Linked DNA regions of Homo sapiens. The protein of the gene in region 2 purifies or fractionates together with the protein of the main gene of each other region. This does not show direct contact. Each region holds a gene or a part of one and is shown on either strand. Other genes may lie near its edges.

Evidence for each region.
Region 1: the proteins of NXPH2 (region 2) and NRP2 purify together in Homo sapiens (affinity purification with mass spectrometry; 3 studies listed by BioGRID and IntAct, with this or other methods). This does not show direct contact.
Region 3: the proteins of NXPH2 (region 2) and MADD purify together in Homo sapiens (affinity purification with mass spectrometry; 3 studies listed by BioGRID and IntAct, with this or other methods). This does not show direct contact.
Region 4: the proteins of NXPH2 (region 2) and FREM2 purify together in Homo sapiens (affinity purification with mass spectrometry; 3 studies listed by BioGRID and IntAct, with this or other methods). This does not show direct contact.

Annotation. Positions count from the first base shown.
Region 1 is NC_000002.12:205,677,776-205,685,568, reverse strand, and holds the start of NRP2 (neuropilin-2 isoform 2 precursor), read right to left. Parts: upstream 3,069-7,793; 5' UTR 2,279-3,068; coding exon 2,206-2,278; intron 1-2,205.
Region 2 is NC_000002.12:138,770,324-138,777,422, reverse strand, and holds part of NXPH2 (neurexophilin-2 precursor), read left to right. Parts: intron 1-7,099. UniProt on the Homo sapiens protein: May be signaling molecules that resemble neuropeptides and that act by binding to alpha-neurexins and possibly other receptors.
Region 3 is NC_000011.10:47,265,376-47,273,159, forward strand, and holds the start of MADD (MAP kinase-activating death domain protein), read left to right. Parts: upstream 1-4,757; 5' UTR 4,758-4,871; intron 4,872-5,281; exon of another isoform or gene 5,282-5,605; intron 5,606-5,703; exon of another isoform or gene 5,704-5,867; intron 5,868-6,586; exon of another isoform or gene 6,587-6,735; intron 6,736-7,784. Other genes in the region: NR1H3 (oxysterols receptor LXR-alpha), read left to right, coding at 2,538-2,651, 2,886-2,980, 3,175-3,321. UniProt on the Homo sapiens protein: Guanyl-nucleotide exchange factor that regulates small GTPases of the Rab family. Converts GDP-bound inactive form of RAB27A and RAB27B to the GTP-bound active forms.
Region 4 is NC_000013.11:38,682,891-38,690,101, reverse strand, and holds the start of FREM2 (FRAS1-related extracellular matrix protein 2 precursor), read right to left. Parts: upstream 3,026-7,211; 5' UTR 2,758-3,025; coding exon 1-2,757. UniProt on the Homo sapiens protein: Extracellular matrix protein required for maintenance of the integrity of the skin epithelium and for maintenance of renal epithelia. Required for epidermal adhesion. Involved in the development of eyelids and the anterior segment of the eyeballs.

The DNA.
Region 1 (7,793 bases), about 67 Mb from region 2:
GCGCCGCGACCGCCGTGTTATTTGCTCAGTTGCTCCCCCGCGCGCACCTTCTGCCCCATCTTGCTCCTTCCCAGAATTGGTTCTCGTCGCCGGCGGCGGCGGCTGAACCAGGCCCCCTTCCCGGCCGGCGCACACCGGGTGAGTCAGAGGTATGTGGCTTGGCCTCGCCCTGGCCACCCGCTGCCGGCTCCCAGGGTGCCAGTGCTTTGCTCCGCCTGAAAGCCTGAGCAGCTCACGGCTTGAGATCGCATTTTGGGGAGCTGGAGGTCCCTGGCAGGTCCCAGCTTCGAATCCCACCCTGAGATCCCACCCCGGGTCCGAGGTTGCCCCGAACTCCGCGCCTCTGGGCTTCTCTGGAAGTGACGCAGCACTGCTGGGGATTGGGATGGGAGGGGGTTCTGCAGAGAGCGCGGCAGGCAGGTGGCAGAGCGGGAGTGGGTCCAAGCGGGTGTCGCGCACACACGTACACACACTCCAAGCAGCGCTCGGGGACAGATGTGCGAACATCTGGGGTAGGAGATGGCCCCTGAGTCTTCACGACCCCTCCCGCTCCGCACAGCACACGGAACCTGAAGTTGCATGTGTGTGCGCGCCAGTGTGAGTGCCAGTGTGTGCGCGCTCGCGCGCTGGGGCCTACTGGAGTCCGTGTCTGAATACATAATATACTGTGGGCATCCTCACGGCGCGCGCGCGTGTGCACACACACACAGCGAATCACACAAACATACATAATTTACGCAGCATCCAGGTCTGTGAGTGGTAATTTAATTCCGCTTCAAGCTGGGAATTTAGAAATAAGGCAAGGGGGAACGGCGGAGGCCCAGAAAATCTCCCCAAGTGGGACCCCCACCCATCCCTTTGGCAGGATTTGCAGCTGCCCTGAAGACCACTTATGGCAAAGAAAGAGCTGCAAACGTGCGGATCTGGGTGGCAAAGGCATTCCTGAATTTTCTTCCCCCCTCAAATAAATGCCCAAGCTTAAAGTGGTGTGTGTGCTGGTGGGGGGCGTGAGGAGAAGGAAGGGTGACAGTACCAGATGCAAGGCTAGGATCCACTAGCTGATGTTCTGGGGATGCCAAGGAGGCTGCAGAGTTAGCTCTACCACTGCCGCCATCGCCTTGCAAGTGCCTTGGGTGAGGGCACTTCAGGAAGGCTTTTTCGCCTTTCTTTCACCCATTTCCTCCATAGATGGTTTCTCCATCTCCAATCACCTGTAGCAGCTGCTAAGAGTTTTGTTGTTAGATTCCAGACACTGTTCTCAGAGGGGTAGGGAGGCTCACTCTAGAGAGTGGTCCGAGAAGGAAGCACAAACCCCACTGCATTCCCCATGGATTCCCCTTTCCAGAGCATACCCCTTGCCGCTCCCCACAAATGCGGTCCCCAGACTGTTCTGGGCCTCGAAATGCTTATCTCCACAGCAGCCTGTCCACACACCCTTTTTGGCAGTGGTTGAGAACAAATTCCACTCAAAAGTTTCTAACCACTTCACAAGAGTGAGAGACCTTCGAGGGCCTGCAATTTGTTTTAGCTAATAATAATTTCTAAAAGAACGTACGATTTACTTTCCCAGACAACACATGGATGAAGAGAGAAGAGACCAACCGTCTTGGTTGCCAGCAGCACCCAACCCCAAGCCCCTATCTCAGCCACAAGCCAACTTGCTCCACCAGCCTGAGCCTTATGATTCTGAAGCATAACCAGTCATTCTCCAAAGAATCTACAGCATCTGAAAACCAAAACTAAACTCTTGTCTTTCCCAAGCCCTTCAGTTAACATTGCTCAATGTAGCTAAGTGGAGGGAATGCAAATGATTTATATTTCACTGGCTAGTTGGAGAAACTCAAGGGAGATGTGTTCTGCTTCAAGACAGGGAAAAAAAATTCCCAAAAACTGTAATGCAAAGGCTTTGTAGTATTTTTAAACCTTTGATTCAGTCCATATGTGACATATGAACACCGCCAAATTCTGTTTCAAAACACACTCACACACACACACACACACACACACACACACTCCTAGCAGGAGAGGAAAGTTGGGTTTTAGCAGCCGTGGTGGTGTAGGAAGGGCCGGCTGGGATCTCTCTTTAAATTATTGAGTACTGAGGGAGCCTTCTTCTGTGCCGTTCTGCGTGGCCTTCCTGCTTTAGCGGTCACTTTTAAAGGGGAAACCATGTTGCAATAAATAGAAAAACTTTCAGTGGCTTACCTGGTTGGCCTCTCACTTGGTGTCTTGAAAAGTAGAGGGCTAAGAAAACCCAGGTGAGAGGAAACATATCCATTTTGGAGAAGGTGGCTCTTTCCAGAGCTGGGTTCGTAGGTTTCTTGTTTAAATCTTTGTGTTTTTCTCTCTTTTATTTTCCTCCTTACAACGTCTTATGCAGAGGTTTCTAATGGTCAGCGTTTCCCTCCTGAGTCCTGGTGGCTTGTCTTCACCTCTATTCTTGCTGGAATTTCCACCTCACCAGGAGGAGAGTAGCTCCTGAAATCAGCAAAGAGGGAACAAGCCGGGAAGAGAACACGGTTTTCCTCTTAAAAACAAAACGCATATATGTTCTCTCCAGTTCCTCAAAGTGTCATTTCCTTTATCCTACAAATATCACGAGTATTTCCCGAAAGCCAAGCGTAACAATAATGATAATAATAATAATTAAAACCAAGACTTGCCTTGGGCATCACACGGCCCCCAGGCAGCTGTGTGATCTCAGAGGCGTAAACTGACACACATCCCGCGGCACCCTTGACGGACACACGGGCGGAGGCAGCCGCCGCCGGACAGCCCGAGTGGAAGGCGGCCGCCCTGCTCTTGTCCTCGCCGGGTTCCCCCGGCGGGAGCCTCCCCCAACGGCTACACCCGCTTGGCCAGCCTCTCGAGGGGAGTCTGAGGAAGGAAGCTGCTGCTGCTGTTGCTGCTGCTGGTGCGGCGGCGGTGGCGGCTGGGATCGCCTGGGAGTGAGCGAGCCCCTCTCCGAGTTCGCTGGCGCCCGCCCTCACCTCCACCTCGCCGAGTGTCTGTGCGGCTGAGGATGTGCTGGGGGCCGGCTGCAGGCTGGTGCCTCGCTCGCGATCTCTGCCTCCCCTCCGGCTCCCCACTGCCTTTTCAGGCCGAGCAGCATGTGGATGTCAGAGCCGCGGCAGAGCTATCCGATTACGCGCCGGCTCAGGGCCCGCCCCTTCTGTGTTCCTGATTAAAGAGGCAGCCGCGGAGACGCGCGGCGCAGAGCAGAGTGCCGCGGCACCCAGCTCGGGCGGGGCGGCGACGGCTTCTCTCGGGCCGCCGCAGGATCGAAGTTAAGGCGGCGCCCATCCCACCACCCCTCGCCCGCCCCGCATCTCCCGATCGCCCCCGCGCACCTCCGCGCCGGGCCGCCGGTGCGTAACGCCCTGGGGAAGAAGCGCCCCCGGGCACCCCCAGGGCGCGCCGCCTTGGCCGTGTCGCCCCCACCCAAGGGAGACCCCGGGGGGACGGGGGGAAAAGCCTTGTTCCCCCTAAATTCCACGACTCCGATGCCACACACGCAGAACCCAACACAATGCCACGCGCGATGGCGTTACAAGAGGAGTTGGGTGGCGTACGGTGTTTGGGGTAGCGAGCCGGTCGGCAGCTCAGCCATGCGTTCGAACAGGCAGCGGTGCGTGGCGGCGACACACACCGTCAGCCCGGTCTGAATAAAACCCCAAACACTCGCTGCGTTTACTACTCAGATCCTTTGTTATGTCCCAAACATGCTCTGCTCCTCTCTGGGTTAGGATTTCGTTACCCCTGCGCCTTTAACTGTAACTACCCTAAAAAGAGGAAAGACTTTCTTCAGCAAATAATTTCTTCAGGTAATTAAATTGGATTCCATCAAGTTCCCCCGAAAAAGTATAGGTGCTTGAAGGCGTCTCATCCAAATGCTACTGTAACTACGTCTATTCACATTTTCCCCCATGGAAACGTGGTCACAAAGCCTAGAGAAAGAAAACATCATTATGCCAACTATTTTTAAATGGAGGCGTGAAAACTGTTTAGAGGGAACTGCAAGCTAACAGTTGGGGAAACACTTGTATCTTTGTTTCTGAGGATGGCTTTGTGGATTCCAAACTGTCTTGCTTCACCAGACACCTATTACTACATTATCATAAAGACTGCAACAGAAACAGCCTAAATTACACCCTGCACATGTACACCTTTTCTGCCACAAAAGAGGTATATGAAAAATAAGAAAATTCAGAAAAATATTTACAGATTAAGATTTTTTTTAAATTAAGAAAGTAAAATTTTCTGTAGATTAAGAAAAATACAGTTTCGGTGACGAGAAACACACACCTGACTACCCATTTTCTTCTTGGCTTGTACTTGTGGATTCTTCTGGGTGGTTTCCCTCCTTATCTGGACTTGCCCATTAGCTTTATCACTTTTAGTGTTTGAAAAATCTGTAACTCCCACTTAACTGTTATTTACACTGAGATAACCAAAACAAAATTGAATCAGAAGTGATTTGCAAATAGTTGAGCCAAGCTGTGTTGGGGGGTGGCGCGGGATTTTAGAGTGGAAATCCACAGGCTGAGTATCACACTGTTAATCTCAGATGCCTGGTTGGGAAAGGCACAGCACAGAGGCCTCTGAGTTCTTCCAGGGAGCATGTCTCTTGGCTAGCCTAAATGCTACCTTTCATTCCCTCTTTGCCTCCCTCCTTCCTCTTCCTCCCTCCTTTCCTTCCTTCTTCCTTCCTTTCTAGGCTTGAGAGCACATCCACATTATTAAAAACTCCAGATTTACATTTCTCCTCTTTAAAGCTCAATTGTAAAGAATGACTCCAAGCCTTAAATATTTAACAAAGTAAAAGAGCAGTTTGGATTATTAACCTTAAGCAGAGATCCCGGTTTATGTCATTGCCAAGATGCTAATCTAAGGACAAAGAACGCTATCTGTAGTGACAGTCCCTGAATAGAGAGGGCCATTTAATATCACCTCTCCCCACCACTCACCAGGCATGCCAAACCATTTTTGCCAGTGCCCAATGTGGGAGACTCCTGTTTGTGAGAATAATGTAGCCAGGGTTTAGGTGAAGGGCACTGTGAAAGGGGGAAAGAAGAGAGAAAAGGTAAACCTAAGCCCACTGGAGAACCATAAGAATGACAACCCTGGACTTCTGGTCTTGGGGTCTCAGGGATGAAGGTCCCCATCAGGCTGCTTCCAGAGTAGAGAAAAGTAAGAATCAGTTTTGTTCCTGGCCTGGTTGCCTACACTGTAACTTTTCATTTTTCAGCGGTGTCCTACAGGGGACGCTCACTTACTTCCTGGGAGTCCTCTGTACCAGGGCTGCAAGACTTCCCACTCCCCTTGAGTGAAGGCCTCATTTCCTGCAGTTGGACAGAGAGTGAGTCTCAGGTTTCCATCCCTGGGGACTCAAGCGGCCAGACCATTTTTCAATCCTCTAGGGGGCAGCACTCAATAAATAATGGTAACACCACCCAGGGTCACACTTCTGGTGGTGCTTTTAATTCCAAGGAGTTCAAAGTGCTTTATCAGACCAGGGAAGATTCAGAGTGAGGCCGATCTCTCCCCAGCCTACTCTGAACAAGACCCCACCGGCCCAGAGAGGGCTTAGAATTGTTTTAACCTAAGACTTCCAAGGACTCTTGGGAACTAAACACAAATCTCACATGTGCCACATGGAAAACAAATCTTTAGGGAAATTCTTCACACTGGGACTGGCTCAGACCTGCCAGTCTTGTTTCCCTCTAGACTGGGATCTCAGGGTTTGACTGCAGTTGGTCTGGTTTCCACCAGAGGTATAGTGGTAAAGAGCTAGGTAGGCACCGTGCTTTTCAGTATTTTGTGAGTCCACATCCCTGGCCCATAGGGAAGCCTGCCTACCTAAAGGCCAGTGTCAAAAATCGGGTTTGTGATCAAAAACACTGAGCTGACTAGATAACAGCTAATTAGCGAAGCTGAGATTCCTGGCCACATCACTGACTCACCTAGGATGTTTCATGTCATTATCCTTAGTTGTAAAATAATACTAGATAATCCACTCCACATTCCATTCCTTTGACGGGAAGGGATGTGGGGGAACATGAAACAGGTTGGTAAATGATGCTAAGAGAAAGCTGTTACCAAGCCACACCCCTGTGGAAAGTTAAGTGTTCCCAGCTAGACAGTCCCAAACCTTAGGGTATATCAGCATCACCTGGAGGAAGTGTTAAAAATTCTGATTCCTGGGAACCATTTTCCTGCAGGTGAAATTCCTTGGGTCTGGAGTGGTCTTTGGGAATCTGTATTTTTAACACACATCTTAGGTGATTCTGATGCAAAGCCTCCACAGACCAGTAGTTGGGAACTTCTGATCTGATGTGTTCTATTTACACACAGCCTTCCATAAATGCTCTTCCGTTGAAGGAAACCTGGACAAGCATTCCTTCACATTTCCTCTCTGGGTACTTTTCAATATGGGGCAGATGTTTCAGGTTTCTTGGAAAAACCACCAAGAACAAGTTCTCGAAAATGCTGCAGTGGTGGAATTCCCAGATTTACCTGTGACCTTTAGCAGCAACTGCAGAGAGCCAATTTGAAAACACCAAAAGCCTCGCCTCATGCAGGCAGGAGCTTTGCAGGGACATGTTCAAAGTAGCGGCTGATGGGTTTATGAGCTGGAGCCAGACCTTTCATCACCAGCCCACTCAACCATTGGTGGTTACTAGAGGTTCGTTTCAGGTATGCTTTTCCATCTGTGTTCATCCCACTGTACTTACGAAATGTTCATGGATGCATGACTATGCCAGAGGTATGCGAGCAAGACAGAGATTTAGGTCTTGCCTCTCGGGAACACAGGATCTAAAAGCTCCAGAAGTTTCATGCTTCCACAATAGATATCACGTGTCACATGGTGCTTCCCCTTATCGGAGCCCTAACATCAATAAGCTCTCACCCTGAAAAGGAAAGATCTAAGGCATAATTGCATCTTAATCTGTAATTTAACACACTGCCCTAGTTAAGGTTTAGCTACATCTGTCTCAGAAGCAAAGCTTCAGTTAAAATGGAATAGGTCCTAATTTATTATTCTCTCTTTTGTTTGATGTCAAAGTCCAGGTTTCTGGTCACTAAGGGTTTTTTTTTTTTTCTTACTCGCCTTTTAAACAATCAACTTTTTTTTTTTCCAGCACACTTGAATATTGCCCAGTAGTTTCTATTTGACATTTCTATTCTAAATTGATATTTCTAGTATATTCTATTTGGTGGGTTTCTGGAATCCTTACAGATTTCCATAAAGTATTGAAATCTCCTTCACTCCATACTGGGTGTATATCTCATTTCTTCCTCAGACACAAACACTGGATCTGGTAGGAGGGGCCCTTATGAAACAAAATTTAAAAAGCAGCAGCAAAATGTGCAAAATTCATTCAGACCTCCCTGGAATCCTTGGAAAAAGAACCTAAAGAAGCCCTATTGCTTCTTCCAGTCTGCCTGGCTTTAGCATGAGTCTGATCTTCCTATGCTACATTAATTTTTCTACCTTTGAGGCAATAAGCGTATCAAAAAGACCCAGTCAACCCTCTCCCTTAAAACAGCACTCTCCATTAAATCTTCTGCAAGGACGGTGGTCTCTGTGCTGTTCACATGGCTACTGCGCACTGGAAATGTGGCTAGTGTGAGTGAGTCACTGAACTGTAGGTTGTATTTAATTTTATTCATTTAAATGTAAATTGCCGCATGTGCTTACCAGCTACCATGTTGGACAACTCAGCCTCAGAATCAAAAGACCAGAGCTGAATAATTCCCATAGAAACCCATAGAAATTCACACCCTTATCA
Region 2 (7,099 bases):
TAGTGCTTTTAACAGACAGGTTGCTATAGCTAATTAATGGGATTACTATTTGCAAGATTTAAATATCCATCTTGAACATATTCCTTTTTTAAAAATTCTTATTCAGCAACATACTCTTATAAAGAATATTAAGAGCATGTTATATCTTTTCTGCCACTAATGAAGAAAAAAATTAGCATTTGAAATGAATATTATATCAAAATGAGTGTTGCTTCATCATGATACAAGGTAAAGACTTCACCAGATGTCAACTGTTTACAGATTTGCATGATGATTTGTAACTGGTAATAAGTGTGATTTTTTGCCTTTAAGTAAAAAGAAGATTAAAAAAAGAATAAATTTTAATTTAAATGAATGATTAGCTAACGTTTAAGATAAAATTTAGGGCTGATTTAAAAAATCAGTTTCTTACACATTTTAACTTGTTTTACTGTGATACAATGCTGAGTTTACAAAATAAAATATTAGTTAAAAGCAATGTAAGTTGGCAAATTTTTAGAATCCTATAAAATCAGATCCTTGTGATGAAAGATGGTAAAATTTTAAGTTCATCTTTTTAGTACCACATAATTTATTAAGGGTACTTACATTAAAACTAATAATTTTAATATTTGTTTAGTCTGATGATTCTATTTATTTCTTCTTCTGTACTTACAAGAATTGATAACTCTTTACTATCTTCCATTCAAAAATGACAACTTTCCTCATACAGCCTTGATCAATAAACATCAAAATAGTATTTTCCAGTGCCGGATGAATAGTCCTCTGTTGGCTATATGACAATGTGAAGGAAAAAAAAAAAAAAACACCACTATATCATTGTTATGACTTAGAGTTGGCCGTGCATTAAAATGAACTCCTCATTATAAGCATCATTATTTTACACACTTTAAAAAATGAAAATTAAGATTAGACAATTAAATCCTTGGTTCCAGTCACCCACCTCCCAGTACAAGTTGTATTCCCTTGGTTTATTCTGGTATTATGTTATCTGGTCCAGTTGTGAATGCCTTCCATACAGAAAAATGACTGCTTGGGAAATTATTTTATTGTTTAGTTTCCGAATGGAAAAGAAAAGCTTTCTTAATCTTTGTTCTGTATTTTTTTGTAATTTTTTCTTTTTTATGGTTTTTGATTAGTAATTGTAATGCTAAATAAGGCAGAAAGCTTTTTGGAAAAATATTTTAGGGGTTTACATTGTCAGCTTAAAATGTGTAGTTCTTGCCAATCAAATGTATTAAGAAATGTTGGTTTATATAAGACACCGCCCACCTTTTATCTATTAAAGAGCTAATCAATACACCTTGAATGATTTAGTCGTTTAGTGGTAGCAATCAAAGATGAATATAAATGTGTCACAGGTTTGTGATTTTGTAAAAGCTCTAGACTGTCTCTTACCGTTTACATATTCTGTGGACTCTTTTACCTGAAGCTTTACTGGGAAAGATTTGAAAAAAGAATTATAGCTGCACACTCAAGTGCTTACAGTTAAGGCTGTGTCAGCGTTTCTGTAAAGAATCTCATTTCTATCTTAGCCATAAGCATTATTGCTGGTTAGAAGCTGGCATTTAATATCTTGATTTGGAAGTAAATTATTTCAAAACGGCTTTAAAAAATTGGTCCAAATGATTTTGAGTGCTCCCCATATGAGGTTACTGTCTAGGTATCCTTATAGTATGCAGGATGGTGATTTAACAAACTAATTTCTATATTATTGACTTTGTAACTAAATTAGCAGGCACAATCCTATGGTTTTGACTTCCACAATGGTTATAATTTAAGTTGGGATATGTTTAAATGATTTTAGATAACCTTTTCCCAGTTAACATATATATTGTACTGCCGTAAGATTTTCTAACACTATTTCGTCATAAGTATTTTTAATTATGCCAAAATCAGGTGCCCTTTTATAAGTCTTTATTTACTAATGCATTTTTTATTAGCTGTGATTTGATTAATGGTATTGATGACAACTCTATTCTTTATTTCAAAATCCTGCTAAATAAAAAAGGAATCTAAAGCAATTTACAGTATAAGTTGTGGTATAGATTTTCATATTAAAGAAAGAATTTTAAGATGTGATTGACTGAAAACTTCTATTTTATGTTATTTTTTAACTTATGAAAATCTAGATTAAAACTCTCAAACAAGTGTTTGGTTCATTATGCTGTAAGATTGGTATATAATAAGGAATTATCTTTCCTTATAGAATTACCATTAAAAATGAAATTTCCATTATTTAAGCCCAAATGCTGTAGGAAATATTTTTCTTTTTCCTAGTCAGATCATTCACAAAGATCAAATAGTTGTATCTAAAATTGCCATTCTTGTGCTCACTTCAGTAGCACGTATACTAAATTGCCATTCTAGTTAATTTTTCCTTTCTTAAATGGTAAGAGAAATGAGACATTTTATAAACTTAAACTATAATGATAATAACGCTGACTTAGATTTCCATGCACTTACATAATTTTAAGTTTCTTTCACACAATTATCACATTCTATTCTCCCAGTAAGACTAGAAGATAGAGAAGGATATTTTAAATGTTTCCATTCATGTTTTGGGAAGAACAATGAATTTCATGTCAAAAGACTTGGAGTCTATTTCTGAATCAGTCAAACATTCAACAAATATTTGTTCATTATCTGTTTTGATCCAGACTTTACACTGAGACTACAGCAAGCAGTGAGAACATAGCAGTCAACAAAATAGAGTTGGTCCAAGGGTGTGAGTGTGTGTGTATGTGTGCACATGTGCACCTGTGAGTGTGTATGTGTCTTGGGCAGTTCGTTTAACAGCCTGAGAACTTTCATCTATAAAATGAAGTCAATAATGACAAAGTAGATAAAAATTTGTTTTTAACATCTCTCCTTTTTTAATATGTTGTAACAGGGGTTCTGAATTTTTCTTCATATGATTTACATCTTTAGTTACTGTATATATATGTTACATAAAAATGTAATTGTTTTAAATATAAATTTCACATGTATTTTATGCTGTTAACCACATCACAAGTGATGTATATACTTAGAAGTAGATTTAAAACACTACAAGATGGATTACTAGATCTGTGCTTACGGAAAAGGAAAATTTAGTAAAACCAGACAGAGAATTGATGAGCACTTATTTAACATATAATCAGCAAAATCAATAAAAAGTTAAATTAAAATGGTGCATTCAGGGATTTTCTTCCCCCATACCATTTTAAATTGTAAACTAACATCTAGTCATTGCATCAATTTAAATAAACGGAAAATTGACTCTCAGTTAAATTCTAATTATTAAGATAAACAACATTACAGATTAATACTGTTCTTCATCCAGAAAACTAGCAAGTGACTTTTGTGTGCCTGAATAGAATACAGTCTATTTAAATCAGAAATAGTTTTAACTAACTGCAATGGTTTCAGGAGTTCACATGTAAATGTTACAAAATTTTAAAAATAAAACAAACAAAAAAACTGGCATGTGAGACCTACCAAAGATGGAGAAAATTGCCAATGATCCTAACCTTAGGAGAAAATCCAAGTGAAACAGAAAGACTAACTATTCCTGGGATTCAATCCAACTGTAAGCACGTAAATGTCTCTACAAATGAAACTTGACTTTGAGATATTGCTGCTTTTTTGCCACATAAAGTGATTCTAAGGTCATTAAAAACAAAATTTACATAAATTGTGTAAGTCTTTTCATGCAAGAATATGCAAGATTATGATTTTCAAGCTTTATCATATATAATGATAATTTTTAAATCTTATCAATTTAAGTTATATAGCAGGTATATTTATTCGCCCAAAACAGTAATTTAAGAAATAATGTATATTATTCAAAGGGAAAGAACACTTATGTAGTATGGCTGTTAAAAACACATGTGATTTCTATTCCCAAATTCCATTCCTCATTTGTGTGTGTAGACAGCTACTGAAAGTGGTTGATTAGTATAAAAATCTGTATGATCTTTTCAATGGATAATGCATACAATAAACGACTAGGGACCATAAAGCATCATTTAACATTTTGTAGTAATGATAACAGGAATATGTATTAATGAAGTTTTGCACTTGGATAGTTCAAACAGGAGACGATTGGGATTGGCTTGAGGAATATGGCTATGGAAATGGAAAAAAAGATGAAGTTTTCAAAAGCGTGTTTTCCGTAGTCTCGAATTTACCTGTTGCTCCTGTGTTGCTGACTCTCCAGCTTGTATCTCAGTTCCTACCCTGTTGCTCAGGCTCCAAGCCGGTGTCTCCATAACTTACTGTTCTGTTTTACTTGGATGTTTTACTGTTAACTCACACTCAACATGTGCAAGGCCACACACATCTGTGCTGAACAAGTGCCTTCCAACATTCATGGATTTGGATCTTGAAGTCACCACCATCCCATTTTTAATGTTTGGAGCCTTTGTGCTAAGACAAGTGACAGGATGTAAAGCACTACATGGTTTGCAAAATTCTTTCGTGGTTAATCTGTGCATCAGCTCTGAAAAGTAAGTAGAATGATAGTTATTGCATCCATTTTACAGGTGAAGCAACAAAAGCACACCACAGGTTTCAGAGACAGACTGTAGACTGCACAGATTGTAAATTCGAATCATCCACTTTGATGATGAGTGCTGTCTTTCTAGGTACTCATCACTGACACCCAGAGTGATGGACTTGAGGGACATTTCTAGGAAACATCCCACTCTGCTCAGTGACCACTGAGCTAGAAACCTTAATTCATTCATCTTAGCTTTGCCATAAAGTCAAATAAGTTGAATAGAACAAATGAATTCTTGGGGCATTTCTTTAATCTGGAGTTCTATTTAGAATTTAACCTCATGGGCCGGGCGCGGTGGCTCACCCCTGTAGTCCCAGCACTTTGAGAGGTCGAGGTGGGGAGATCACCTGAGGTCGGGAGTTCGAGACCAGCTTGACCAACATGGAGAAACCCCGTCTCTACTAAAAAATACAAAATTAGCCAGGCGTGGTGGCGCATGCCTGTAATCCCAGCTACCTGGGAGGCTGAGGCAGGAGAATTGCTTGAATCCAAGAGGCAGAGGTTGTGTTGAGCCAAGATCGTGCCATTGCACTCCAGCTTGGGCAATAAGAGTGCAACTCTGTCTCTAAATAAATAAATAATAAAATTTAACCTCATGGAGGCCAGTTGCCAAGGGTCTCAGCTTTAATGCCATTTTCATGTTAAGTTAGTAGCCAAGTAATGTGGCTCCAGTTAGGATCAGCAGAGGTTTTGAGAGTTCCTCTAACTTTTCAGGATCTCACCTATACCACTCCAGATGGAAAAGATAAAAAGGAGAGAGAAAGTGTGGGTTCACGGGCTGCTAAACCCTGGTTTTCTAGTGGACAGGTAGGAATATGAGGACAAGCAGGTGGGTGAGGGAACCTGTCTAGTAGGTGCCCAGACTTGTGTAGAATTTGAGAGCATTAATATATAATTTTACTTTACTAGTAGCACATGGCTTTTGCTCTCTTTTTCTTTCTTTTAATGAAAATATGTATTTTATTATAAAAGTAATATTGTAGTGGATGTTATTGGTTCTCCACCCAGATTTCTTTTGGGGAGGCACTTTGCCAGAATGCACTCAGAGCCACAGGTGCCATTCACTTCCTCTGGAAAGCTCTTGACTAGTGACTGACAGATGTCAGAGTATGAAAGCCCAGCTGCCTTGCCCCGACTCTGGACAGCTCCCAGATATAACTGAGGTGAAACAGATAATCTCGGTCTTCCCTGCAGGAGCAGGCTGAAGCTACCCTCTGCAAGACTTTGCCTGAGATCACGCACTTCCATGACTTTTTTCCCATTCTTTCACCAGCTGCCCTGCTCCCTTAGCAAGGCTTCCCCGGAAGTGCTTCTGTTTTAAATCAATAGCCCTCAAATACTTGCTTCAGCCTGTCCTTCTGGGGAACTCCATCTAAGATTTCTGTTTAATTTTTTTTTTTTTTAGTACTACTCAGAATTTCTTTAAGTAGCCATCCTCACCCCTGCCTGCTTTCTGCCACCTCATACCTTATACTCAGGGCATTATTAATAGTTTAACGTATGTCTTTCCAGATATTATGGATATGTATGCTTTTATAATAATTATATCATGCACAGTACCATGTTCTGTAACAAGCTTTTTTAATGCAATAGCATATTTTGGCTACTTTGATAGAGCAACTTATATTTTTAAAGATTCACTGTATTTCATGGCATTGATATGCCATAATATATTTAATCTTTCTAATTAATATTTAAATTGTTTTGAATTCTTTAATATAGTTGTAAGTATACCTGTAACACAAATTCCTAGAATTGAAAATGTTGGTTCAATTGAGAATGTATATATTGAATTTTGATAATTATAAATGTTTTCTGAAATGATTGTACCAATATAAGGTATTACATTGTATGTGCATGCCTGTATCACACTACCTGAATACTGGTATTTAAAAAAAAATTTTTGACAATCTATTAAAGGAAAGTACTTCATTGTTTTTAACATGTATTGTATACTGTATTACTTATCAGGTATATAAAGCATGTTTTCACATTTAATAACCATTTGTATTTCTTATTTTGTGAATTGCCTTTTTAAGTAATTTCCTGTGTTTCAGTTTTTTACAGCCTTTAAATTTTATAGTTTCTTTTTAATATTGCTCACGCACAATTGTTCTTTATTATTCCTGAATATCTGGTACATTATTAGGTTGTTATGGATATCTTTTTTATGGCTGACATTTTAAAATTCATTTTTGCTGGAATGTAAGGAAAACTATTTATTTTTGTATGTTTATGTTTGTATCTGTTCTATTTCTGAACTCAGTTATTAGTTGTAATATTTTTTATTTGATTCCCCTGGATTTTATGTCTAGACAATCATATCATCTGCAAATAATCTTATATTTGACTCTTTTTATTGAACATTATGTCTCATATTAAAATTTACTCTCCTAGAGAACTGTATAGAATCTTCAAAATATTATTGAATAATTCTGAAATTAAGCATGTTCTCATGTTTCCAACTTTAACATAAACTTTACTAAGTATGAAGTTTATTATTTGTTAATTTTTATTTTTATTTTATGTATGTGTTTTTAGCATTTTATTTAGATA
Region 3 (7,784 bases), on a different chromosome or scaffold from region 2:
TACAGGAAGTGACTCACCAAGAAGCCTTGAATGGAAAAGTGTAGCAGATGGTTGCTAAAAGAAATCTGACAAAGCCTGGGGAACTCTGTAGGGTGCAGAGACTTTGACAATGTGTATGAGAGACATTCTCTAGGTATCATTACTTTAGCTCATGTTTTGTTGCATTTTAGTCTTCTCAGCAGGAAGACTGTTTCCAAGAAAAATGTATTATTTATTGACCAGGCGCGGTGGCTCATGCCTGTAATCCCAGTACTTTGGGAGGCCGAGGCAGGCAGATCACGAGGTCAAGAGATCGAGACCATCCTGGCCAACATGGTGAAATCCTGTCTCTACTAAAAATACAAAAATTAGCTGGGCGTGGTGACATGCACCAGTAGTCCCAGCTACTCAAGAGGCTGAGGCAGGAGAATTGCTTGAACCTGGGAGGCAGAGCTTGCAGTGAGCCGAGATCATGCAACTGCACTCTAGTCTGGCAACAGAGCAAGACTCTTTGTCTCAAAAAAAATTTTTTTATTTATTTTACAAACACTTATGTGGTAGTTACCATATATGCCACATATTTATGAGATAGGTACTATTATTATTCCCATTTTACAGATGGGAAAACCAAAGCCCAGAGAGGTTAAATAACTTACACAAGGTCACACTGCCTTGTAAGTGGTAGAGGCAGGACTCAACCCGAGGCAGTCTGGCACCAAAATCCACATCCTCACCCATACTGCAATATTCCCTCGAGGATGTGATACATGAAATGTATCTCTAGTGTTCAAATAAGTAAGGCCAATGCCAGTGAAAAACAAGTCTTTTTTTTTTCTTTGAAACAGGGTCTCGCTCTGTCGCCCAGGCTGAATGCAGTGGTGTGATCAATCATGGCTCAATGCAGCCTCGACCTTCTGGGCTCAAGTGATCCTCCTTGAGTAGCTGGGACTACAGGTGTGAACCACCGTGCCCTGCTGAAAAAGGATTTTTTTTTTTTTTGAGCCAGAATCTTGCTCTGTCGCCCAGGCTGGAGTGCAAGTAGAACAATCTCGGCTCACTGCAACCTCCACCTCCCAGGTTCAAGCAATTCGCCTGCTCAGCCTCCCGAGTAGCTGGGACTACAGGTGCGCCACCATGCCCAGTTAATTTTTGTATTTTTAGTAGAGACCGGGTTTCACTGTGTTGCCCAGGCTGGTCTCAAACTCTTGAGCTCAGGCAATCCGTCTGCCTCGGCCTCCTAAAGTGCTGGGATTATAGGGATAAGCCACCGCATCCAGCCTTTTTTCTTTTTCTTTTTTTTTTTTTGAGATGGAGTTTCGCTCTGTCATCCAGGCTGGAGTGCAGTGGCGTGATCTCGGCTTACTGCAACCTCCGCCTCCCAGATTCAAGCAATTCTCCTGCCTCAGCCTCCTAAGTAGCTGGAATTACAGGAGTGCACCACCACGCCCAGCTAATTTTTGTATTTTCAGTGAGACAGGGTTTTGCCATGTCGGCCAGGCTGGTCTCAAACTCCTGAACTCAGGTGATCCCCCTGCCTCGGCCTCCCAAAATACTGGGATTACAGGCATGAACCGCCGTGCCTTGCTGAAAAACGATTCTTGATAAACAAAAATAAGAGTTGCCTCTATTTCTAGAAATGTGGAGCCCTCAAGAATTTTAATGACAGAATTGGCAGGTGATGGTGTCTGGTGCCTGTAATCCCAGCACTTTGGGAGGGCGAGGCGGGTGGATTGCTTGAGTCCAGGAGTTCGAGACCAGCCTGGGCAACATGGTGAAATCCTGTCACAACTGAAAATATAAGAATTAGCTACTTGTGATGGTATGCACCTGTAGTCCCAGCTACTAGGGAGGCTGAAGTAGGAGGATGGCTTGCACCCGGGAGGTCGAGGCTGCAGTGAGCTGTGATTGTGCCACTGCACTCCAGTCTGGGTGATAGAACAAGACCCTGTCTCAAAGAAAAAAAACAAGAATACCAGAATTATTATTTAATTCAGCACCTCTTGTGTGCCAGACACAGCGCTAAGTGCCCTGCATACTTTGTCATTGAACTATACCAACAATTTTCTGAGAAGGGTTCAGATATGATTCCCATTTCACAGATGAGGCTTATAGAGGGGTTAAGACATTTGCTCAAGGTTACACAGCAAAGCCTTGTAGACCTTTTTTTTTTTTTTGACGGAATCTCGCTCTATCGCCCAGGCTGGAGTGCAGTAGTGCAATCTTGGGTCACTGCAACCTCTGCCTCCCGTGTTCAAGCAATTCTCCTGCCTCAGCCTCCCAAGTAGCTGGGATTACAGGCACCTGCCACCACGCCCGGCTAGTTTTTGTGTTTTTAGTACAGACGGGGTTTCGCCATGTTGGCCAGGCTCTTCTCGAACTCCTGACTTCAGGTGATCCGCCCGCCTCAGCCTCCGAAAGTGCTGGGATTACAGGCGTGAGCCACTGTGCCCGGCCTCAGTAAACTTCTTAGTGAGTTCCTAATAGTTCCCTAAGGTGAGGAGAGAAGAAAGTTCCTGCTGCTCCTGCTGCTTGCGTCAGCCTCCCTTCTTCCTCCCCAGGGCTGCAAGTGGAATTCATCAACCCCATCTTCGAGTTCTCCAGGGCCATGAATGAGCTGCAACTCAATGATGCCGAGTTTGCCTTGCTCATTGCTATCAGCATCTTCTCTGCAGGTGTGGAGGAGGGGCAATGGGAAACAGCAAGAGACTTACACCAAGGAGGGCTGCAGGTCCCACAGGAATCGGTGGGGGGAGGGGGGTGGTGGCTTGGGAGGGTGGAGGCATTTGCTGTGTTATTTTAGGATGAGAGAGCTTGGCTGGAGCATGTCTCTATATTTTGGTTGCAATTTGGGGTATGGAACTGGACCCTGGCCAGACCTGCTCCTCAACTCTCTTGGTGACCTATAGACCGGCCCAACGTGCAGGACCAGCTCCAGGTAGAGAGGCTGCAGCACACATATGTGGAAGCCCTGCATGCCTACGTCTCCATCCACCATCCCCATGTGAGTCTCCCCATGGTGTTCCTTTTCCTCCTTCCCACACACAGGCCCATTCCCTGACATACCTACTTTCCCTTCAAGAATTTCTCTCTGACTGCATGCTGTGCAGACAATTCACCTCTCCCACAACTCCCCTACTCTTGCCCCGCTTCCCTGGGGACAGGCAAAAGCTGTGTTTGTCTCTCTCCTTTCCCCAGGACCGACTGATGTTCCCACGGATGCTAATGAAACTGGTGAGCCTCCGGACCCTGAGCAGCGTCCACTCAGAGCAAGTGTTTGCACTGCGTCTGCAGGACAAAAAGCTCCCACCGCTGCTCTCTGAGATCTGGGATGTGCACGAATGACTGTTCTGTCCCCATATTTTCTGTTTTCTTGGCCGGATGGCTGAGGCCTGGTGGCTGCCTCCTAGAAGTGGAACAGACTGAGAAGGGCAAACATTCCTGGGAGCTGGGCAAGGAGATCCTCCCGTGGCATTAAAAGAGAGTCAAAGGGTTGCGAGTTTTGTGGCTACTGAGCAGTGGAGCCCTCGCTAACACTGTGCTGTGTCTGAAGATCATGCTGACCCCACAAACGGATGGGCCTGGGGGCCACTTTGCACAGGGTTCTCCAGAGCCCTGCCCATCCTGCCTCCACCACTTCCTGTTTTTCCCACAGGGCCCCAAGAAAAATTCTCCACTGTCACTCTGTGGTATGGCCATAAATGCCTCAGCGCCGCCTCACTGATAGGTCTGGTACTGTTTGAACAGGAAGATCAAAATGAATACAAAATGAGAGAAACCAATTTCTGGATTGGGGGTGGGGACACGGTAATAGAGGAGGAAGCCTGCGATCTTTAGGATCCGCCTCCAGGCCCAGAGGAGGGAGAGTCACAAATGACAGCCTTGGCCGTGAGAGGGGGCCTCTTCTTACTAACCCCCACTGCGCCATATGGGTAAATGGAATGCTGAGGCTTAGGCGCCCCCTTCCCCTGCTGGGATCCGGGTAGGATCCGGTTGCCTTTCTGCGGTGGAGGAGGAAGTGTTGGATTTCAGCGCTAAGGCGTCGGCGGTGCACCTCACGTGCATGTGTAGCATGCCTTGGTTTTTCCTTTGGCATCTGAAAAAGGCACAACCTGAAAGACCTAGAACCCAGTGTCGGTCCCCAGGCCCTTTGGGACAGGAAGAGAAGAGCCGTGTGGCCGCGGGGAGGATGTCCTGAGGCGGGGCTGTCCTCGCGGACTGACTGGACTCCATCTCCCAGCGGGCGCCGCGGCGCGGCCACGCCCCCCCACTCCCCGCGCGCGCCCGGTGGAGGTAACCGCGGCCGCGCGCCCCCCTCTGCCCCCGCTGCCCAGGATTGGTAGGCTCCACCGCTCGGCAGCCGGCTTCCCTGCTCGGACGCCGAGCACCGCCAAAGCGCGTGAGTGGGGGGTGGGGACTGGGGGATGGGGAGCCCGTCAGGAAGTCTCAGGGGCCGATTATCTTGGGAAGTGACTTTCAGAGGAATCCCCATGTCGTCGAAACGGGCGCTATGACCCCGTCGGGTGAGAGTCTCTCTGAGCAACCCAAACAGAAGGTACTGCTGTGGGTCCCCCACTTGGCACGCGACGGCGCTGGGTCGGCCTGGCGCGCCCTCCCGCGCCCACGGGCGCTAGGCTAGGTCTGTGCGCAGCCGCTGTCTCCCGAGGTCGGCCCCGCCCCGCGGCGCTCGGCTCGGTGCAGCCCCGGCCCCCCGGGCTGAATGGTACGGCCCCGGCCCCGGCCTCCCCCTCCGCACCCCGCGCGAGTGGTGCGTGCCCCCCAGTGCAGACGCGGAACTGGCGCCCGCTCGGAGCGGCGCCGCGCTGGGGAGCGACTGACGCCCCGCTGCCGGGGGACGTCGGGCTGGGCCTGGCCAGTCCCCCAGAGCTTGGGAGGTAGGAGAGTCTGGGCCGGTGGGGTCCTGGGCGAGCGTCTGGGGACTCCGAGCGGGAGACGGGCTCTGAGAGGACACCGTGGCTCTTGGAGGAAGGGGTCTCTCAGGAGGCCCTGGGGGAGTGTGAAGGGGCGTGGGGACGGGGGTCTGCCGAGGAGGGGCGGGGACGGGGATGGGGGCGCCCCGGGCAGAGGAGGGGGCTCAGGCTACTGGGCTTGGTTCCTGCCGAGCGGGCGGCTCGGGTTCAGGTTCGGGGCGGGGGCGGGGGCGGGGGAGAACTGTCCAGCAGGTGAGGGGGCGGGCAGAGCTGGCCAGCCCTGGGGCCGAACCCGCACAGCGCTTGGCGGGTGTGCTTGTGCGTGTGCGTGCTTGCGCCTTATTTTTGGCTAGAATTTGGAGAAACACGTTTGGTTCTCAAGAAATTTTTTTTTTAACTTGATATTTCAAAATTGACTTGCTGGAGAGAGAACACCATTTCATCTTTCTGCAATCGCTCTCCTCCCCATCCTCGTGTATCTACCTTCTTCCACCTTTCCCTGCCCTCCCCTCTACCCCAACCCTGCCAGCTGCCAGCCTCCTTGCTCCAGTTCTCCCATACGCTGGACCAGTCTGTGCTGATGAGCTTGCAAGGTCACTGCCTGGGGAGGTAGAGGAGGGGAGGAGAGCCTCCTGTTGTGTTCACGTCAGCAGAGATGTCATATCGCTCTCTGGTTCCTGTGGTTTTACTGTGAGATCCTGTCCAAAATGAGGGACGAATCCAAAGGGTTGGTTAGCATGGCTATTTCTGCTGAAAAGGCATAGATAACTTAAAAGTTTGTGAATCCTAAATCTACCTCTGGGTGGAGCTGATGGTGATGTCGGACTTCAGCAGATAGATATGCATTTTGAGCTGGATGCTTTTGGAATACAGGAAGATAGGAACCAGAGGCTCTACGTTAGTAAACATGGTTGAGGCAAGAGGCAGAGTCGGAGCCTCGTTGGTTGTGAAGACAAGAGTGTGAGTTGTGGGTGATGTTAGAGGATTTAGTCTTTAGAGGAGTTAAAGGTGTTAGTCTTTTTGGGGAGGGGAGAGAGGAGAGAATGAGAAGGAAAATCTTAGTTATCTTTGCAATCTGAATAACTGAAGGCAGTGGCTGCTGATCAGATGTGAACTCTGGCTAAAAATTTATCCTACCACCCGTAGCTAGAATAATAACAAGATCTCAGGGTCCTTGTGGCTCTGGAAGGAAATGATTGTGAGTGACTTGAGTTTCGTCAGATAGTTGTCAGTGGAGAGGGACTGAGATCCCACCAAGGCTAGAGAGGCCTGATGCGTACTCAGTAGGAGGTGCTTCAGGCCTGATCTTTGAGATTTTGGTTGGAGAGGGCTCCGGGTTTTCAATGTAAACATAGATTGCAAGGTGTAGTCTAGAGCTCTGGTTCTATAAATTCTGTTTTACTTTAAGATACTTTGGCTCTCACTCTAGTCATTTCTACATAATTCTTTTTTTTTTTTCGAATCCCATGACAGGTTAACTACATAATTCTTTATTAAAACAAATTATGCTTTTTACTCATATCCCATTTCATTTCTCTATTTCTCTCCCCCTTGGATTCTGCTCAGGAGGAGCTGAGTGCGGCTCTGTTATAGTGCCCCACCTCCTGCAGTTTGCTCATGACTCTATTGCAGTTGGGAGAACCAAGGGACTATTTGGGTTCGTTAAGCAGTGGTGATACCTAGAAATGAATATATGGCGTGCTCAGAAACCTGGTGGTGTTCTAGAGATATCACTATCAAAAGCCAGAATTAGGACGAAGTACAAACTACAGACAGATGAGGGAGAAGACAACCTAATTCTTAGCAGGTACTGTCAGTGGGAGAAGTGTCTCTAGGTTCGAGGAGAGTGAATTGTTATGGGCCTTGGCTGACTCTGGAGTAGCAGCTGCTAGCACTGTGCGGTCACCAAGCAGGGGAGGGGCTGTGGCTCTGCTATAAATAGTGCTGGGAGCCAGAGTCGCTATAGAGATAAAACTGAATCCTATTACCTGCAGGTCCTCTACTGGGAGCAAGGGAAAGGAGAAAGCAGTATTTTGAGGATTTGAGAGGTATTGCAAATAGGTCTTGTTTATTGTTAGGTAGGGGAGAAAAAACTTCTACTCATTACCTAAACCAAATAGGGCCTTAAGCATCCAGGGAGTGTGTATGTCTGTATATATGGGAGTGCCCGCAGCAGCAGGTGAGGGAGTAGAGGGTGTGTGTGTGTATACGATAATGGGTTTCTCTCCGTGTGCATTGAACAAGGTCTTAGGCCGCATGTAGAGCACAGAGGTAGAATCCTGGAACACTAGAAATATGAGAAAAGAACTTCTACTCATAGAAGAAGTAGCCCTACCAGAAATAGCTGTGCAGCGGGGTGAAACGTTTTATTTAGAGAAGTGTATAGACACTTAACACGAAATAAATTATAATTAAGACCATGAAAGCTTTTCCTAATTTTAGGACATAGTTTAGAAATTTCTCTGAGCACGTCTCCCTGTCCTTGCAGAAATCCTGGTATTTCTGCCTCTAATTCATAGCCTCTGTAATGTATAGTAGGACAAGGACTCATCTGTGGGTATTGTATTACTGATTCTGAGCCTGAGATCAAAATAGAGGAGAGATTATGATTCAGCACCAAGGGCAGAGCTAGTAGCAGTGGCCTCTGGGCTCCTTTCTTGCCTGAAGGAGGGAGAAAAGTGGTGCAGATTAGGCAATTGGGGCATGGACATTTTCATTTGAGATCACATGAGGTAGAATAGCCAGCTGTTATTGTCTGAGCATGGTTAACTAGACAGTCTATGTGGTAGTTTTACATCAAGCTGAATGTAGATTGTTGAAACAGAATAATTAAGTTTCCATCTAGACCTAGAAGTGCAGGTTAGTGCTAGCTAGTTG
Region 4 (7,211 bases), on a different chromosome or scaffold from region 2:
ACTGACTTCCAAGGAGCAGCTATCAGTCAGGGACTTGTCCCCATTATGGGCATAGGAAACTCGGCCCTGTTTTATGTCCTCCAAGTGGAAGAGACCCCCTACATGCAGGATCTGTCCAGACACTCTCATGTGGCCATGTTTGGGTGCCTGAGTGAGAGTGAAAGAGATATGGGCAACATCAGTGTCTACATCATTCACGTGCAACTCTGTCTCACTCAGGATGTGGTGACCCTTCTCCTGAATAGTGAAGCCGGTGTTGAGGATCTCAGGTGGCTGGTTGTCCACGGGATGCAAGTAAAGGGTAAAGGTACCTGGAGCCACATTCCCAGCTCGGTCTTCCACCTGGAACTGGAACTGGGCCACTCGAGTAGCCACGCCCAGTTCTTGACCCGGGGGTCTGTAAGCAATTTTATGATGGTTGATCTGGGCTTGGGTAAAATGGGTCACCACGACTGAGGGGTTGTCAGTCAAGACCAAGGTACCCAGTGGGGCTGGCAGGTGATTTTCGTCTGTGTCTGTGGGGGGCTGAGTCACTGTGTAACGTAGTTCTCGGTCATCTGTGTCCAGGTCAGTGTAGCGCAGCCACTTCTTCCTCAGTGGTGTGAGCTGGGATTCCTGTACCACCATACGAAGGGGACAGCCACTGCCCAGCTCCGGAGGGAGGCGATCCACAGGATGGATACGAATCACAAACCGCTGTAGCCCGGACTGATTAGGAGGGTCATGGTTATCCTGGACTCTAAATGTGAACTGGTCTGTGACTGGCCCAGGACTATGGGGCCCAGAGTGTCTATAGAACAGCCTGCCCTCTGTTATGTCCTGCTGCTGCCACTCTGTCACTGTTCGCTCATAAAATGCCCCCTCCTTCCTCCAAAGGCCTCTGAGAAGTTCCTGCTTCTCATGGGGAGGGTGAGTTTGGCGGAGAAGCAGATGCCCCGTAGTTAAGAAGGGTGACTCCAGCACAAAAAGCAGCAGAGAATCATCTGAATCCATGTCAGTTGCACTCAGGGAAAGGGGCAGGATGGGCACTGTTTCACCCTCTGCCAGTGTCAGCCCCGTGTTGGCATTGAGAACAGGTGGCTGGTCATCCACAGGCACTAAGGTGATGGGGAACAGAAACTGTACCTGGTGCCTGCCTCCTCCATCCACCATGCGAAGCACCAGGTTGTCGCTCAGCGAGCCGTCTCTGTCATCATGCTGGTAGACCACCTGGCCGGCTGCCAGCTCAGCCACTGTAAAGCTCTTGGGAGCAGAGCTGCCACTGGAAGCACCCAGAATGACAAGGTGACCATGCCGGAGCCCAGCCACCACCTCTAGCCGCACTGCTTCTAGGTCATCCTCATCGCTGATGACCAAGTTTTGCGGACCACTGCCTGCAGGGCCTGTGAGGGGCCGAGACTGACCCTCATAGAGAATAAGACCGGTATTCCGGGTGACCACCGGAGCCATTGTGTTCATGGGCTTCACCACTACCATGAAGGCAAAAGGGTCTGAAGCTGCTCCTTCTAGATCCACTACCTCCAATTCCAGTTCAAAGAGGCGCTCCTGGTCAGAGTCTTCAGAAGGGGGCTGGTAGGCAATCTTCAGGAGCCGCAGATCCCTCTGAGTGAAGGAGGAAAGGGGCAGGCTGCGATCATCGGTGCTCACCAAGTAGCCCTGGCCAGGCTGGAATGGAGAAGTAAGGTTGAAGATCAACAGGTCAGAGGGAGACTCAGCATCCTCGGCTGCCAGCATGTCTGGGGTCAGGGCCGTCAGTACAAACTGGTCCACCTCCATCATCATCATGGCCACGAAACTGGGCTTGGGTGCAGTGTTCTCGGCCCCTCCTCGGATCCTCACCAGAACCTGGAAGTGCTCGCGTTTCAAAGCAGGGCTGCCCACAGGAGCCCCTCGTGAACGCAGCTCCACCACCATGGGTATCCAGTCCCTGTTTGGTGAGCGACTGGCGGCTGTGTGGCGATAGCGCACGCCTAGTTCCTGGAAAGCTTTGCAGTCCATCAGGAGAGTCTCCGGGGCGCCTCCCTCTCTGGCTCCTCCAGGGACCTGCGGGTAGTGGAGGAGTTCTCCATAGCGAGGCAGCGCGCCCAAGCCGGACAGGATGCCCACGCGGCACTCCTCTGTCTCGGGCTGGAAGGCGAACTCCAGGCTCCGCGCGTCCAGGGCATTGCTGGTCCCCAGCAGCTCTTCCACGACCAGAGGCAAGTTCCGAGTCACAACCTCCAGCTGGGTGAAGACCACCTCCACCTCCAGTACCAGTGGTAGCACTACTGCCCCTCCGGGCGCGTCATAGCGCAGCTGCAGCCGGACGCGGTCCCGAGACGGGCTGCGCGCGCCCAGGTGAGAGTAGCGCACCTCGCCAGGGCCAAAGTCGCACGGGAAGCGCTTGGGACTCAGGCGGCCCGGTCGCTGGGCCAGTGCGTCGTTGTCTAGTACCGAAACCGCGCAGCGGTCCCCGGGCTGCACCTGCAACACCAGGTCATGCAGGGGATCCAGCCAGACTTCACGGCCGAAAGGCACCCGGAGTCCGCGGTTCGCCAGCACTATGGCCTCCTCAGCAGGGACCCCTGCAGCCCCCGCGAGACCAGGGGACAGCAACGCCCTGCCGAAGGCAGCGGGCTGTGCCGGGACGCGGCTTACCAGTGACAGGAGAAGCAGCAGCAGCAGCAGCAGCCGGGGCGGCGGTGGCGGTCCTGGTTGAAAGCTGGTGGAGTTGCCTGTCCGGCGCGAGGATAACCCGGGAGTCCCGGCTGAGTGCATGGTCCCGGTGTTCGGGCTTGGACAGGTCAGCCTGAGAGCATGCGAAGTCGGTCCCCGGGCAGACAACAAGAGACACCGCCGGGAAGTGCCAGGAACTCCGCGCGTTGCCCGCGGGGTCCTCCTGTAGCCGGGGCTGGGCCAGAAGGATGGCAAAGTTGCGCGGCGCCGTCCGGGCTGGAGCCGCAGCCGAGGAGCCGAAGCCTTCCCAGGCCGTCCAGCTCCGCCGCTAGCGCCTCAATCGCGCGGAGAATTGAATCCCTCCACTTCTACTTTCCAGGTCCCCGGACCCTGGGCTTTGAGGGAAATCCCTCCGCTCGCACCCCTTACTCCAGTCCTCCCAGGTGGCCAATCGTTGGTCGGGGGAGGAGGTGCGGAGCTGAGGGTTGGGTAGTAATTTCTGCCAATCAGCTCTTAGAGGCCAAGGCGGGGAAACTGCGGGGAGGGGAGGAGATAGAGGCGCAACAGGTTGTCCTGGAAGTGAGGGAAGAAGTGGCCAGGAGTTGCCCACCCCTGCTTGCGCTACTCTCTGGGCTGCTATTAATAGATCTGGTACTCCTGCAGAGGAGCCGGAACACACTGCTGTGCTGGGTTCACTTCATCTGCCGGCGACCGAGGGTTACCCATTTTAGCCACCCCCACCCCTCCGCCCTAGTCAATGAAATCCCGCGCAGGGCATGGCCATTTCCCAAGGAAACTTGCAAACCCAGGGGAAAGTTAGACGCAATGCTTTTTGAGTTTGAAGCGAAACCCAGAGCGTTTGAGAAGAAATTCTGGGGCATATTTGCAAAAGGACAGCTGGAATTAAAAGCCATAGCTAGAGCAGGTTGCACTCCAGCCCAGCCCCCTTCGGCGCGCCCAGACGCTGCCTTCTCCTCGTGAATTACAATGGGCACAGTCCTCCGATTGGTGAGTTTTTAACAAGCCCCTCCTTTGCAACCGAGGTTCACAGAGTAAAAGGGAAAAAGGGCATTTGGAATGCGTGAGAAATGCAGTCTGATCAGAATTGCTAGTCTTGCACCAAAGAATAAATTCTAGGGAATGTGGCCCCAGGCGCTCCCAAATCCGACTCTGTTAGGGTAGCTGTCATTAGAGACGTTCCTGTTCTCTTCGCAGTAATTAGACCAAGCACAAACTAAATCTACTTGTCAGCATCACATTTCTTTGCATGCCACGAAAATTGATAAATATCCGGAGGGCACACTAAAATAGTTTAGCTCTCATTTCAGCCAACAGGTTTTGAAGTCAGAGCTTGAGCTCTTCCTGCCCCCTTGTGTTTGTTTGGTTTTAGTAGTGTGTAGATTCCCTTTCTAAAAGGTTTTTTTATCAACTCTCCTCCCCCCCTCAAAAAAGATCCCTTGTAATTTAAACTTAATCATTTTCGGATTGGCTCCTAAGCAATCATAGTCAGAATGTTTTATTTAGGATAATATTTTTTTTCTCCAGTAATGCAAATCTGATTGCTAACAGGAGCATAGAATTGGAGTAATAGTCATAATTAGCCATAATTGCCCTTTTCCTGCTCCAAGGGATTTTGAATTTGGAAAAGAGGGAAATATAAGAAATTGTTAATGTCTTTTTACATTTCAGTCTAAATTGAAGCTAGAAGGTGCCTATGGGAGTAATTTCAGTAAGAAGTGCCTATCCTTTTAAGCCTTTGTGTTTTCAGCTTGAGCTCCTCCAGACCAGGATTTTGATCCTTGCTTGACACAGTTACAGCTATTTTCCAGGCTGCAGCACAAACTCTGTACATAAGTATGGCTGGGAGATGCCAGATTCCTTTCCATGAAACCTACTGAGTGGTGTCCGTTTCCAGGAATCATAGACAGGAAGTTCTAAAATCTTTCAAAAAGAAGCAAGAGATCAATTTAAAGGAGTCACTCATCCAAGCAAGTGTGCAAGCACGCAAACAAGTAACATTTAGTTAATTAAATATTAATTAAGATTATTCTGTGTGCTGTGCATTGTTTGAGGAGCTTTTAACTACAACTTAGAAACTGATGGATACATTTCACAATTTATTACAAAATGGGCATCCAGGAGCATAGAAGGGATGTGGCCCTTACTTTAAATACATTAGAAAATCCCCCATCTAACTCTTTACCAATTTCCTATTTGCTTTGTCATTATTATTTTATAATTTATATGATTATTTATTATCGCATACAGAATTCAAAATGCGGAACATGGGGGGAAATTCTGCTATTTCCTGTTCCAAATTAAAACAAATAAGATGCCAAGTAAACTAGAAAACCAATTTCAGAATATGGCTCTTTTTATAGTAAATTTCAAATTCTGGTTGTGTGTTTGTATTGAAAAATGTCATCTGGAAGCAAAGTGGCCTTATCCAGGCATTGTGACCCTGGGTAAATTCTGAGCAGAACCAGACTAACAGCTTGACCCTTGATGCTTCTTAGTGGCTCCAGGGTTTTCCTTTCCTCCTTTTAAAGTCCAACTCTGTTTGACTTGCAAGCAATGATAAGATCAGCATTTGAAGTATGGTAGTATGCCTCAAGGGCAGAGTTCAATATTTTGTTTCATGGTAAGAAAAATACAGGACCACATTTATTTTTACATAGCCTAAGGAAATCAATAAACTATAATCTTTTTGACTTTTTAATTTTGTCTGCCTTGATCGAAGTGATAGAATGATTTTTAGAGATTATTATTATTTTTTGGTAAATGTCTTAGTTATTTGTCTTGTAAATCAAATAGAAGGTAACTCAAACTATCATTTGGCTAAATATATTTTACATTGATGATCATTGACAAAACAATGAGATGTCAAATTTTTATTTGAGAGCAAATATTATTGATGAAGATCATCTCTGTTTAGGCTCCTAGTTCAGTGTTAAAAGATATGAATGCTAAAATAGCAAGAAAATTATTATTTTACAGTCAGCGTTCTCAATATCACTCAATTTCATGAAGAATAAGTTAGCAAATGTGATTTTTTTTTTTTTTTTTTTTTTACAAAATTCGAGCTTAACACTTCACTTCTTACTTCCTTAAGCCTTATAACGCTTCCTATACATACCATGGGCAAAATATTCCTTAAAATACATTCTTAAATTTGTTTGCTACTTTAAAGTCATACCAAAGTGTTGTCTCATATCAACTTAGAGTTAAAATTATTGATTGCTAAAACTCACAGACTAAGATTAAGCACTAGAGAACTTGTTTTCTAAAATAAAGGAAGCAATGTAATTAATTTATGATTCAGGCAAGGTATTTAGGTGGAAATACCTAATACCTAATACCTAGTACCTAGTAGGTCTACCTAACTATTACCTAACTACTACCTATTAGTAGGAAATACCTAATACCTAGTAGGTCTAGGACTGGAGGTCAGACTGGAACTAAAAATACATCTAGTTAAATTTTGAGAATTATAGTTTTCATTATATAGTTTATTTCATTTTCCTTATGCTTCTCCACCGGGTCATAAGATTCCAATAGAGAAGATTGCCTTATAGACACTTTTAAAATACTTACAGATGAATTATTGAAGTTTCTTGTGAAACATCTTTATTCATTCTCAACAAATGCTTATTCTTCAGTGGCATCAAAACCATGGTTTGACCATAAACACAAAACTTCATCGATTTCAGAGCAGCACTGAGGGGTGAGGACAAACAGCTACGGACTCATTAACCAAGAGGTGGGTTCCAGTAGCGGTTTTGACATCCACTAAATTATGACTTACAGCAATCCTCTTTATGTTTTGCAACTATAGTCTTCTCAACTGTAAAACAAGAGAGTCAGTCTTTGTGGACAAATTCCCTTTTGGTTTTAATAAGCTTGTGGCATAAGACCAAATTTATGGACGACCTGCTATTTTGCTTCCTCATGTCCCTTGGCCATTGGCTATAGGTCTCATTCTTGCCAGAAACACTACTAATCAAAAATGTATCACTGCTACTAGGTCAGAAAATGTAGAACTCAAATTCATGCCCCTTGCGAACGGCTCAATTGTTTCTGCCTAAAATATACAGAACAACATTTGTATTAATTGACGTGGACAGCTTAAATACAACATCTCTAAGTAACTATTTTTAAATAAAAAATAAAATTGAAATAAAAGTCTAGAAATGCAAAACTTAATTAAACTCATCATAAGGATAGGCGAATTTTCAAGATGGATTTATTATTGAGTAACATATGGCTTCACAAGCGCCCAGACTTTCCAGACAAAGCTATGTTCAGATGGGAGTCTATGTGGGGAAGAAGAAAGAGCACTGGACTAGAAGCCAGAAAACCTGTTTTGAAACTGGCCTTTCCATTTGCTTGCTGTAAAATATACAGAACAACATTTGTATTAATTGACGTGGACAGCTTAAATACAACATCTCTAAGTAACTATTTTTAAATAAAAAATAAAATTGAAATAAAAGTCTAGAAATGCAAAACTTAATTAAACTCATCATAAGGATAGGCGAATTTTCAAGATGGATTTA